2 linked regions of the Homo sapiens genome follow. The protein of the gene in region 2 interacts with the protein of the main gene of each other region in a pairwise test. Each region holds a gene or a part of one and is shown on either strand. Other genes may lie near its edges.

What was found. The genes of interacting proteins can lie anywhere in the genome.
Region 1: the proteins of LRRC41 (region 2) and MYO9B interact in a two-hybrid assay, tested with the Homo sapiens proteins (one large-scale study listed by BioGRID and IntAct).

The regions. Positions count from the first base shown.
Region 1 is NC_000019.10:17,077,895-17,083,002, forward strand, and holds part of MYO9B (unconventional myosin-IXb), read left to right. Parts: intron 1-5,108. UniProt on the Homo sapiens protein: Myosins are actin-based motor molecules with ATPase activity. Unconventional myosins serve in intracellular movements. Binds actin with high affinity both in the absence and presence of ATP and its mechanochemical activity is inhibited by calcium ions.
Region 2 is NC_000001.11:46,281,864-46,287,388, forward strand, and holds part of LRRC41 (leucine-rich repeat-containing protein 41), read right to left. Parts: intron 4,637-5,525; coding exon 3,499-4,636; intron 1-3,498. UniProt on the Homo sapiens protein: Probable substrate recognition component of an ECS (Elongin BC-CUL2/5-SOCS-box protein) E3 ubiquitin ligase complex which mediates the ubiquitination and subsequent proteasomal degradation of target proteins.

The DNA of each region.
Region 1 (5,108 bases), on a different chromosome or scaffold from region 2:
ACATTGCACCTATTCCCAAAGCTTTGGAAACTGCAAATTTCTGGAAATCCCGAGGCAGTACCGTCCCTCGGGTCCAGTCTGGTGACTCAGTGGAGCAGGTAGAGACGTGGGAATCTCCCCTTTCTGTTTGGCTGTAGGATTCGTTATTCTCTCCCCACATGGACTTGTTAACTTGCTGCTTCCCATTCCTCATCTCTTCCAAATGGTGTGTCTTGGGTGGGCCTAGATTTCAGTTAGGCAAGGGTTGATTGTGCCAGACACTTGGTAGATTCCTGGGGACAGAGGTGAATCCTTATGACCCAGAGGACGGACACGCTAATGCCCGCCCCCGACAACTTTGCACTTCCTCTTCAGAAAGAATGGAGTTCAAGCTGGGCCGCGGTGGCTCAGGCCTGTAATCCCTTTGGGAGGCCAAGGTGGGTGGATCACAAGGTCAGGAGTTCAAGACCAGCCTGACCAATATGGAGAAACCCTGTCTCCACTAAAAATACAAAAATTAGCCCGGCGTGGTGATGTGCGCCTGTAGTCCCAGCTACTCTGGAGGCTGAGACAGGAGAATTGCTTGAACCCAGGAGGCGGAGTTTGCAGCCAGCCAAGATTGCGCCATTGCACTCCAGTCTGGGTGACAGAGCAAGATGCCCTCAAAAATAATAATAATTAAAAAAAAGAATGGAATTCAGATCAGGTCATCAGTACGGTGACAGAGGGGCCACAAGATATTATGGGGGGAGAATTAGGGACAACCAATGCAAGCTTTAGGACAAGGGGGATTCCAGCAAGTTTCCTCGGAAGTAGTGGCTGGCCCCAGGTCAAACCTGGAAAGATACCACGTGTTAAACCACTCCGGGTGGAAGGGATTGCACAAGCAGATACCTTTGAAGCCCGGCCTGTACAGGGCATCCCAGCTCTCTCATTCTGCCAACCGGCAGTGCGAGGGTCCTTGTTCTTATCTTCCTGATACAGAAACAGGCCCAGGCAGGTGATGACTTCAGAGATGGTTCCTTGAGCTTTCTAGAAACATGCAGGATCCTTAGTAACCTTTAACTGGGGAAACCCAAATCTCCAGGGCCGTTTCTCACCCGCATCACCATTGACAGTTGGGGCTGTGCACTGTAGAATGTGGAATAGTGTCCCTGGCTGTCACCCATGAGATGCCAGTAGTATTCCATCCCCTCCAAGGGGTAACAACTGAAAATGACTCCAGCCATGGCCACGTGTCCCCTGGGGGCAGAATCACCTCCCCCGCCAGGTGAAATGTGATGCTCATTAGTAAAACCTGGTTCCCCTCTAGGGCCCATCATTGCCTTGGTGGGTCCTTGGTGTTTGTGGAGCCCCTGAGGAACTGCCACTAAGAGTGGGAACAGGGGCAGAGACCAGGAACTGAATCCTGCCATCCAGTCAGTTCTTAATCAGGAGGGAGCGGGTCTTGATAAAAAGGAGGAACCGTTAGGAACGGACTGTGGGAGGGTAGGCAACGTGCCCGAGGGTGGACAGCGGGTGCCCTTGTCTTTTCTTTGTCTTGTGACTGACCTGGATTTCTGGAGGAACTGTCCTCGTCTTAGAATGATCTGTTGCTTTTCTTCTGAGATTAGAGGTATTAGATTCTCTCCCAAGAGCTACTTTGGAGGTTGCCCCGGATAAACGTCGCTTTTGTAAGCTGCATTATCTCTTCCATGGGCCCTTTCGCCCGCCCGTTCCCAAGCACATACTGCTGAATTTTTGTTCTTGGTCCATCTTGCTGTCCCCTTCCCTGCTTGGCCCCCTCCTTGACCGTGACTTTGCTGCTTTACCTTGATTGGAGGAGACGCTCTGGGGCCACGGGACTGACGGTCCCTTCTGGGTGCTGCCCCCACACCCCACCCACCAGCCCTTTGTGTGCCCGGCATCCCCAGCCCAGCTGTGCCAGGCTGCCCCTGCTCGGCCGGCCATTCAGACGGCCCCAGGCGGCCTCTCGGCAAAGCAAGACAAGCCCTTCTCTTCTGCCCTCGTGGTCCCTGGAGTGGCAGAACAAAGGGCTCTGTCTCCACACCAGCCCACCGCCGCAGCCCAGAGCCCCGTTCCCTTTCAATTTCTATCGTGGCTGGGAAAGAGCCTCAGAGATTAGGCATGTTTCAGAAATGCAGCTGACGAGTTTGGGTTCTACTCATTTCCTCAGCGAGACTTTCTGAGCCCGAGCCCGATGATAAATAAAGTAGTGATTCAAGGGTTCAGCCCATGGGTTCGTCGGAGTGATGAATAAGATATCCTTGTCTGACTCACTTGTTTAAAACCCATCTCTGCCCTGCTGCACAGGGCTGTATGTGCAAGAGAAGGAGCCCCGCTAGGGGTGTTTCATGACTGTTGTTGCTGGGTGCCTGAGTTTGCTAGGGCTGCTGTAACAGAACCGCACGCTGGGTGGCCAGAACGACAGAAGTATATTGGCTTGCAGTTCTAGAGGCCAGACGTTTAAGATCACATTCAAGATCAAGGTGTTGGCAGGGTTCGTGCCTTCGGAGGGCTGTGAGAATCTGTTCCACGCCTCTCTCTGTTGGCTCATACATAGCCGTCTTCCCCTGGGTCTTCACATCGTCCTCCCTCTGTGCCTGTCTCTGTGTCCAAATTTCCTCTTATGAGGACAGCAGTCATATGGAAGGGGGCCCACCCTAATGACATCATTTTAACTGAATCATCCCCATAAAGACCCTGTCTCTAGGCGAGGCTTGGTGGCACACGCCTGTAATCTCAGCCCTTTGGGAGGCTGAGGCAGGAGGATCACTTGAGGCCAGGAGTTTAAGACCAGCCTGGACAACATAGCAAGATCCCATCTCTACAAAAAAATACTAAAATTAGCTAGACATGATGGTGAATGCCTGTGGTCCCAGCACTTTAAGAAGCTGAGACAGACAGATCGCTTGAGCCTGGGAGTTTGAGGCTACAGTGAGCTATGATCATGGCACTGCATTCCAGCCTGGGTGACAGAACGACACCCCCATCTCTTAAAAAAAAAAAAAATCCCAAATATACTCATACTCTGAAGTTCTGAGGTTTAGGATTTCAATATGTGAATATTTCTTTGTGGAGGGGAGTGGTGGACACAGCTCAGCCCATAATACTGAGAAAAGGACAAATTCAAATTACATTTTTATTTATTTGTTTATTTATTTTGGGGGCGGGGGCAGAGTCTCACTCTGTCACCCAGGCTGGGGTGCAGTGACGCGATCTCAGCTCACTGCAACCTCTGTCTCCCAGGTTCAAGTGATTCTCCTGCCTCAGCCTCCCGAGTAGCTGGGACTACAGGCGTGCGCCACCACGCCCAGCTACTTTTTGTATTTTTAGTAGAGATGGGCTTTCATTGTGTTGACCAGGCTGGTCTTAAACTCCTGACATCAGGTGATCAGCCCGCTCGGACTCCCAAAGTGCTGGGATAACAGATGTGAGCCACCGTGCCCGGCCTCAACTTACATTTTTAGATAATATAGGAACCTGGAGGGAAATGATCGTGTCAATAGAGAATAGGTCCATTTTGTCTCTTCTCACTCCTTTAAATAAACACTTTAAGGGTGAGCAGGTTGGTTGGCCACATCAATTTTGGACGCTCCCTGTTTTCCAGATCTCACACTCATACATTCAGGGGTGACTAAAGAGAGGTGAGAGGCCTGGTGCAGTGGCTTACGCCTGTAATCCCAGCACTTTGGGAGGCCGAGGTGGGAGGATCACCTAAGGTCAGGAGTTTGAGACCAGCCTGGCCAACATGATGAAACCCAGTCTCTACTAAAAATACAAAAATTAGCTGGGTGTAGTGGCACACACCTGTAATCCCAGCTGCTTGGGTGGCTGAGGCAGAAGAATTGCTTGAACCCAGGAGGCAGAGGTTGCAGTGAGCCGTGATCTTGTGCCACTGCACTCCAGCCTGGGCAAGAGAGTAAGATCCCATCTCAAAAAAAAAAAAAAAAAAAAGAGGCGAGGACCCAGCCCAGGGCGGAGTGGGTCCCATGGGATTTTACAGGGGATGTGTTGAGGGCCAGGTCCACAAGGCTGCGTGTGCCTGGTGGGGAAGCAGGATGAAGTTTACAAACAGGGCATGGGGCGGGGGTATATCTCTGTTCTCAGTATTGCCAGGGTCAGGGGCAAGGAATATCCAAAAGTAACTACACTCTTGGACCCAAGTGACCTTAGGACCAACTGCTGTCACAAGTGATTGAACAAAAGAAGTTTCTGGAAGGTCTTAAAATCCTTCAGCAAAAAGGAAGTATTGGCTGGGAGCCAGGCTCAGAGCTGGCCCTTGGGGAGACTGAGGAGAACAGAAATAGCCCTCGCCTCTGTTCAGATGTTCAGCCAGGAGTCACGAGCATGGAAGTCAAATTAACAGCCCAGTGGGGTCTGTGAAGGTGCCGGCAGCAGGCGAGCCTGTGACGGGAGCCTGCCTGGCCTGGGGACTCGCTTATGGGGGAAGTGGGAGACCTGAGAGCTTCCCCAGTCAGCCGTGCCCTGGGTCTTCTGCCTGCGAGGTGGGCACCGCTGCTTCCTCACGAGTGAAGTCACAGCAGCACAGCAGCAGTGGGAGGCTCAAGGCTTTGCTGTGGATCTTCCTGGGCTCACTGCTCAGAGCATCTCCACGAGGAGGCGTCTGCCACCTCCTGCATCCCATTCCAGGGCAGACGAGATCGGGGGCAGGAGGGTGACATTTGAGATTTTGATTCCCAGGGTATGGGTACTCACGTGGGGCTTTAATTTCCTGGTGAATGTGCCATGGGGGGCAAGGGGTAGCTTGCCCACTGCTTGGGAAGACCCCTGGGGTCCTTGTCTTGTCACGTGGAGATGCTGTTTATTGGGTAGGCACAAGAACAAGAGAGGCGGAGAAAGTGTGATCGTACTTATTTGGCCCATAGGTGCCGTGGAAACTGGTTCCTTTCCCCTGGGTGGTCCCTCGGGAGTCAGGCCCATGATTTAGCAGGGAAGGGAGAAGGTAAGGGTTGGGGTGTCCTGGAGTGCAGAAAGTGGCCTGAACCGGGGCAGGTACGTCCTCAAGGCTGGCTCCCTCTTGCACTCCGCACTCTCAATATCCTGCAGCCAAGTGAGCGTGGGGTTGGAACCATGCTAACATGTCAAGTGCCCGTGGGTCCTCGAGG
Region 2 (5,525 bases):
AGGCCAGGAGTTCCAGACCAGCCTGGCCAACATGGTGAAACCCTGTCTCTACTAAAAATACAGAAATTAGCTGGGCTGGGTGGCACATGCCTGTAGTCCCAGCTACTCGGGAGGCTGAGGCAGGAGAATCACTTGAACCCAGGAGACGGAGGTTGCAGTGAGCTGAGATCACGCCACTGCACTCCGGCTTAGGTGAAAAAGCAAGACTGTCTCAAAAAAAAAAAAAAAATCACAGCTAGGAGAGTGCAAGGCATGAATGAGACGCTTGCTTGTTTGGCTACATGAGGCTCAGGAAACAGCTCTAGAGGGCAGGGCACTGGAGGCCACATTATGGAAAGGCAAAGGGATGGTTTAACCTAGACGCAATAGGGAGCACCTAAAAACTATGGAGAGTGACAGTGACCCAACTGGGATACTTAAAAGAATCAATGGGTGGGAATGGGGCAGGAAAAGATAACCAAATCCCACAGCATGGACTAGGATCCAGGAAGGTTGGTTGCTTAATGCCACAGGCAAATAATTCCTTGGACTATGCAGGCTCCTGTTCATTCATTCAACTACCCAGTGCCTACTAAATATCAAGTTTTTTGCTAGACACTAGTGAGCAGCACATTGCTTTTTTTTCTTACATAGCTTGATAATGCGATGGGAACTGGGGGAATAAAGTACTATGAAATTACAAAGGATGAGTACCTAGTCCAGCTTACATCAGTAAAGGCACTCCAGCTAAGTCCTAAAGAACATAAAGGGGACAGGCTAAAATTTAGGAAGAATGATTGTGGCAGAGGCAACTTGGCATATGTAGAGGCCTGAAGGAGAACAAAAAAATTTCATAATGGCTGGTGTGAGAGTGTGAAGGGGGGAAGCATTCAAGATACAACTATAGGCCAGGTGTGGTGGCTCACACCTATATAATCCCAGCACTTTGGGAGGCTGAGGTAGGCAGATCACCTGAGGTCGGGAGCCCAAGACCAGCCTGGCCAACATAGTGAAACCCCGTCTCTACTAAAAATACAAAAATTAGCTGGGCATGGTGGCATGTGCCTGTAATCCCAGCTACTGAGTCAGTAGAATTGCTTGGACCCGAGAGGCGGAGGTTGCAGTAAGCCAAGATTGCACCATTGCACTCCAGCCTGGGTGACAACAGAGACTCCCTGTCAAAAAAAAAAAAAAAAAAGATACAACTATAGAGATAACCAGGAGTAAGAATATGAATGACCACTAAGTAAAATTAAGCCATTGAAGGGTGTTTGCATAAATGAATGACAGGGTCATTTTTGACTGATTTTTTTAAAGAATCAAGACTGCATTTTTCAAAGGATGCTTGGGCTGCAGTGCAGATAATGGATTTGTATGGCAAGAGTAAGGAGTCCGGAGGAACTACTGAAATTAGTTCAGGTAGTGGGTAATGGTAGCTTGAATTAAGGATGTGGAGATAGAGAAATAAATGTATTTAACAAATTGTAAAGATAGGGCTGGGCTTAATGGCTCATGACTATAATCTCAGCACTGTAGGAGGCCGAGGTTGGTGGATCACTTGAGGCCAAGAGTTCGAGACCAGCCCGGCCTATATGGGGAAACCCTGTCCTTACTAAAAATATAAAAATGCATTCAAGTTGGATGTAATGAGTTGGGTGGGGTATTGTGGGTTATGAAGTTGTCATGTCTACTAGCTGGATAAATGGGTCTGGAAGTTCAAGAGAAAGATCTGGGGTAATGTCACATAATGGGGAGTCTTTAGCATAGTTGGCCTTTGAAACCACAGGAATGGATGAAATTGTCCAAGAAGCGTGCATAAAGTGGGAAAGCTCTGAGGAACTCTGAATAAACAGAGGAGGAGAAAACTTTTTTTTTTTTTTTGAGATGGAGTCTCACTCTGTTGCCCAGGTTAAAGTGCAGTAGTGCAGTGGCACGATCTCCAGTCACTGAGTAGCTGGGATTACAGGCGCCCACCATCACGCCTGGCTAATTTTTGTATTTTTAGTAGAGATGGGGTTTCACCATCTTGGCCAGGCTGGTCTTGAACTCCTGACCTCGTGATCCACCCACCTTGACCTCCCAAAGTGCTGGGATTACGGGCGTGAGCCACTGCGCCCGGCCAAGAAAACATTTTTTAAGGTAGTGAAAAAAAATTTAATGAACAGCAGTAAATCCTGCCAAGAAGAGTTACTGAAAAGTATACATTGGATCTAGTAACAAGGAGGACCCTGATGACATAGGTCCTTGCCAGTGCAGTGGTAGGGGTATAAGAGGCTGGAAGGGGCTGTGAGTAAGAGAAGTGGAAACAGTACAGATAACTAAGGTTGTGAAGAACAGGAGATAACAGTTTATTAATATGGCATAGAGGGAGGTGGTGGTGGCAGTTTTTGATGGAGACCTGTTAAAATGCTGATAGGAGAGAGACGGTGGAAAGGAGAGTAGCATAGTTGTTTGAAAGCATGAATCTGCAGTCTGGTTGCCTGGGTTTTGAATCCTAGCTCTATAATTGCTAGGTTATCCTGAGGAAGTCACTTGCCCTCATAGGGTTGTGAGGATTGTTAGATCAAATTATCAAGAATACTTAAAATATGCCAGACACATACTAAGCAGTATATAAAAATTAGTTTGAGAAACAAGCTTCCCTAAGAAGGTAGAATGCTTGTTTCTCAAACTGGTAATTTTTATATACTTTGTTGTGAAGCTCTATGCATCTAGAGCACAGGTGGGAGAATTAGCCTTAGAAAGGATGGTGGTCTCTTCTATTCTGGTAAAGAAGGATGAGTGCAGATGGAGAGTTTATAGGCTGCTTAGCAAGCTAAAGAAACTCATGTGTGATGGCTTCTATTTTCTCTGTGAAGTAGGTGAGGTCATCCCTGAGAAGGGAAAAGGAGAGTTTGGAAGTGGTAGGAATGGGAGCTGATGTTGCAAGCACAGTGAAGGTTCATACGAGGTTAGTGATCATATAGTAACACTGATTTGCATAGTTGTATGATTTGTCTCTAGCAGTGCTCAGCAACCTAGGCGGATTGCTGGATTTAGCCAGAGTTGAGGTTTTGCTAGCTGGTCACAAGCAGGAGGGAAATGAGGACTGAGGACTGCTTTGCAGGTTGTTGGTCTGATAAGAAATTGTGTCCCACACCTTGTCTGGACAGCTACTCTGATATGACTGGTGAGGTGGTGAGGTCAAACTCTAGCCCTGCCTGAGCATGCATATACTATACTGCTCCCACCTGCCCTTGGACTGCCTTCCATATCTAAAATGTATTCATTCTTCAGATTCCAGCTGGCTTGTCTCACTGCCCCTCAGGAACCCCTGCTTTCAACAACTAATCAAGTGTATAGACTTTATGTTCCTCTCTTCTAGCAATGACAGTCTCCCCTGCTATGAGGCATACAAGCCTTCCTCTCTAACCTCCTGATCATACCCCCAATTTGCCCCTCCCACCTCCCTAGAATTAGGCACACAGCTGGTGCTGCTAGGCAATCTAAGCCCAATCCCTGCCACTCCAGGGTGCTCACCATTGTAGGAGAGTGTGAGGCTCTCCAGTGACACCCAGGAGCTCAGCAGGTGGCATAGTGTCAGGGCTGCCTCTGTGGAGAGTGGAACTGTGAATAGCTCCAAGGTGGAGATGCTGCGGAATCTTTGTGAAGCTTCCAGTGCTGGAAGCCCCAGGCAGCTGGGATCTGATCCATCCAAAGCTCCACAAGCCACTTCCCCAATCTCCATCTCTTCGCCATCCTCCTTCTCGCCAGCCACAATAAAAACGAAGTCATACAGGTCTTCAGACTCTGCACCAGGCCCCTGACGGGTGCGAGCACCCTTCTTCCCTGCAGCTCGCTTGAAACGCTTTAGGGGCTTAGGCTGTGGGGCTGAGCTAGCTGGTGCCCGTTTGTATGAGGATGTAGAAGAAGAGGCAGAGGAGGTGGCTGCTGGAGCAGAAGGTGACCGCTTGGTGCCAGGAGCCTCATGGGAGGTGGCTGGGGGGTGCAGCTCCCTCTTAAGGTCTGTTCCGCCTGCTGTCAGGCTCTCCTGTGTGCTCCGGCGTGTTACCCGAGTGGCAGGTGCAGCTCTGGGCATCTGCTTGGCTTCACTCTTACGCCGGCTGGCCATCAGGGCTGCAGCACATCGCTCAGCAGCATCCCGGCGGGGCCGACGTGAGCCCAATAAGAGGGACCCTTCATCTCGGGATGGGGCCCGGCCTCGGGAGGCCTCTCCACAGAGGCGGCAGGGTGGGCCACCAGGCCCTGGTTGCCAGAAGCCAGCACTCATGGTGAGAATAAGGATGAAAAGGGCTGACTCAGGCACAGGCCAGGAGTATAGCGACACTTGACTGACAGCCCCATGGTGAATGAGCTGATGCAACAGCTGCCGAAGTGACTGCTGAGCAGCCACATCAGAGAACAGCAGGTGGCGGAACTTGAGAGTGTGCAGGGAGCTGGCCAGGGTCTCCAGAACCCTGCGGTTGGGCTCAGCCACCAGCTCGGTTGCACCCTGCAGCATGTTACAGATGGTGAGCTGTCGGACATGGCGGGAGCTGTGCAGAAGAGGTGAGAACCGCTGATCACAAAGACGCCTGTCAGAAGACACATCAATGGTCCCACGTAGAACATGGGAAAAAAAGGCCTCCATAAACTTGGCTCGCCAACATGTCACACTCTGAAACGCAGAAAACATGCCAGACAGCCATGATATATCCATGAAACTGTCCAAATTTCCCTCTCTTCCAATAGCACACTATTTACTGAGTCAGGCAACACTACAAATTCATTTAATCTTCACATCTCTGAGGTATGTATTATTATTAGCCCTATTTTACAGGTAAAACCGAGGCACAAAGAGGTGGCCACACAGGTAAGTGGTTGGATTATTTGAACCCTGGAAATCTGGTTCCAGAGACCATGCTTTTATTATAGTGTCTCCACTGAAACACTCACCCCTGTAAGTTCTTCCATGTTTGTTTCTAGAACCTTATCCCAATTTTTTTTTTCTTTTTAAGATAGAGTCTCACTTTGTAGCCTAGGCTGGAGTGCAGTGGTGTGATCTCAGCTCACTGCAACCTCTGCCTCCCAGGTTCAAGTGATTCTCGTGCCTCAGCCTCCAGAGAAGCTGGGATTACAGGCGCCCGCCACCACACCTGGCTAATTTTTGTATGTTTCATCATATTGACCAGGCTGGTCTTGAACTCTAGACCTCAAGTGTTCCGTCCGCCTTGGCCTCCCAAAGTGCTAGGATTACAGGTGTGAGTCACCGCACCTAGCCCCTTATCCCAACTTCATTTTTTTTTAGACGGAGTCTCACTCTGTCGCCCAGGCTGGAGTCCAGTGGCGTGATCTCGGCACACTGCAAGCTCTGCCGCCCGGGTTCACACCATTCACCTGCCTCAGCCTCCCGAGTAGCTGGGACTACAGGCACCCGCCACCACGCCAGGCTAATTTTTTGTATTTTTAGTAGAGATGGGGTTTCACCCTGTTAGCCAGGATGGTCTCGATCTCCTGACCTCATGATCCGCCCGCCTCGGCCTCCCAAAGTGCTGGGATTACAGGCG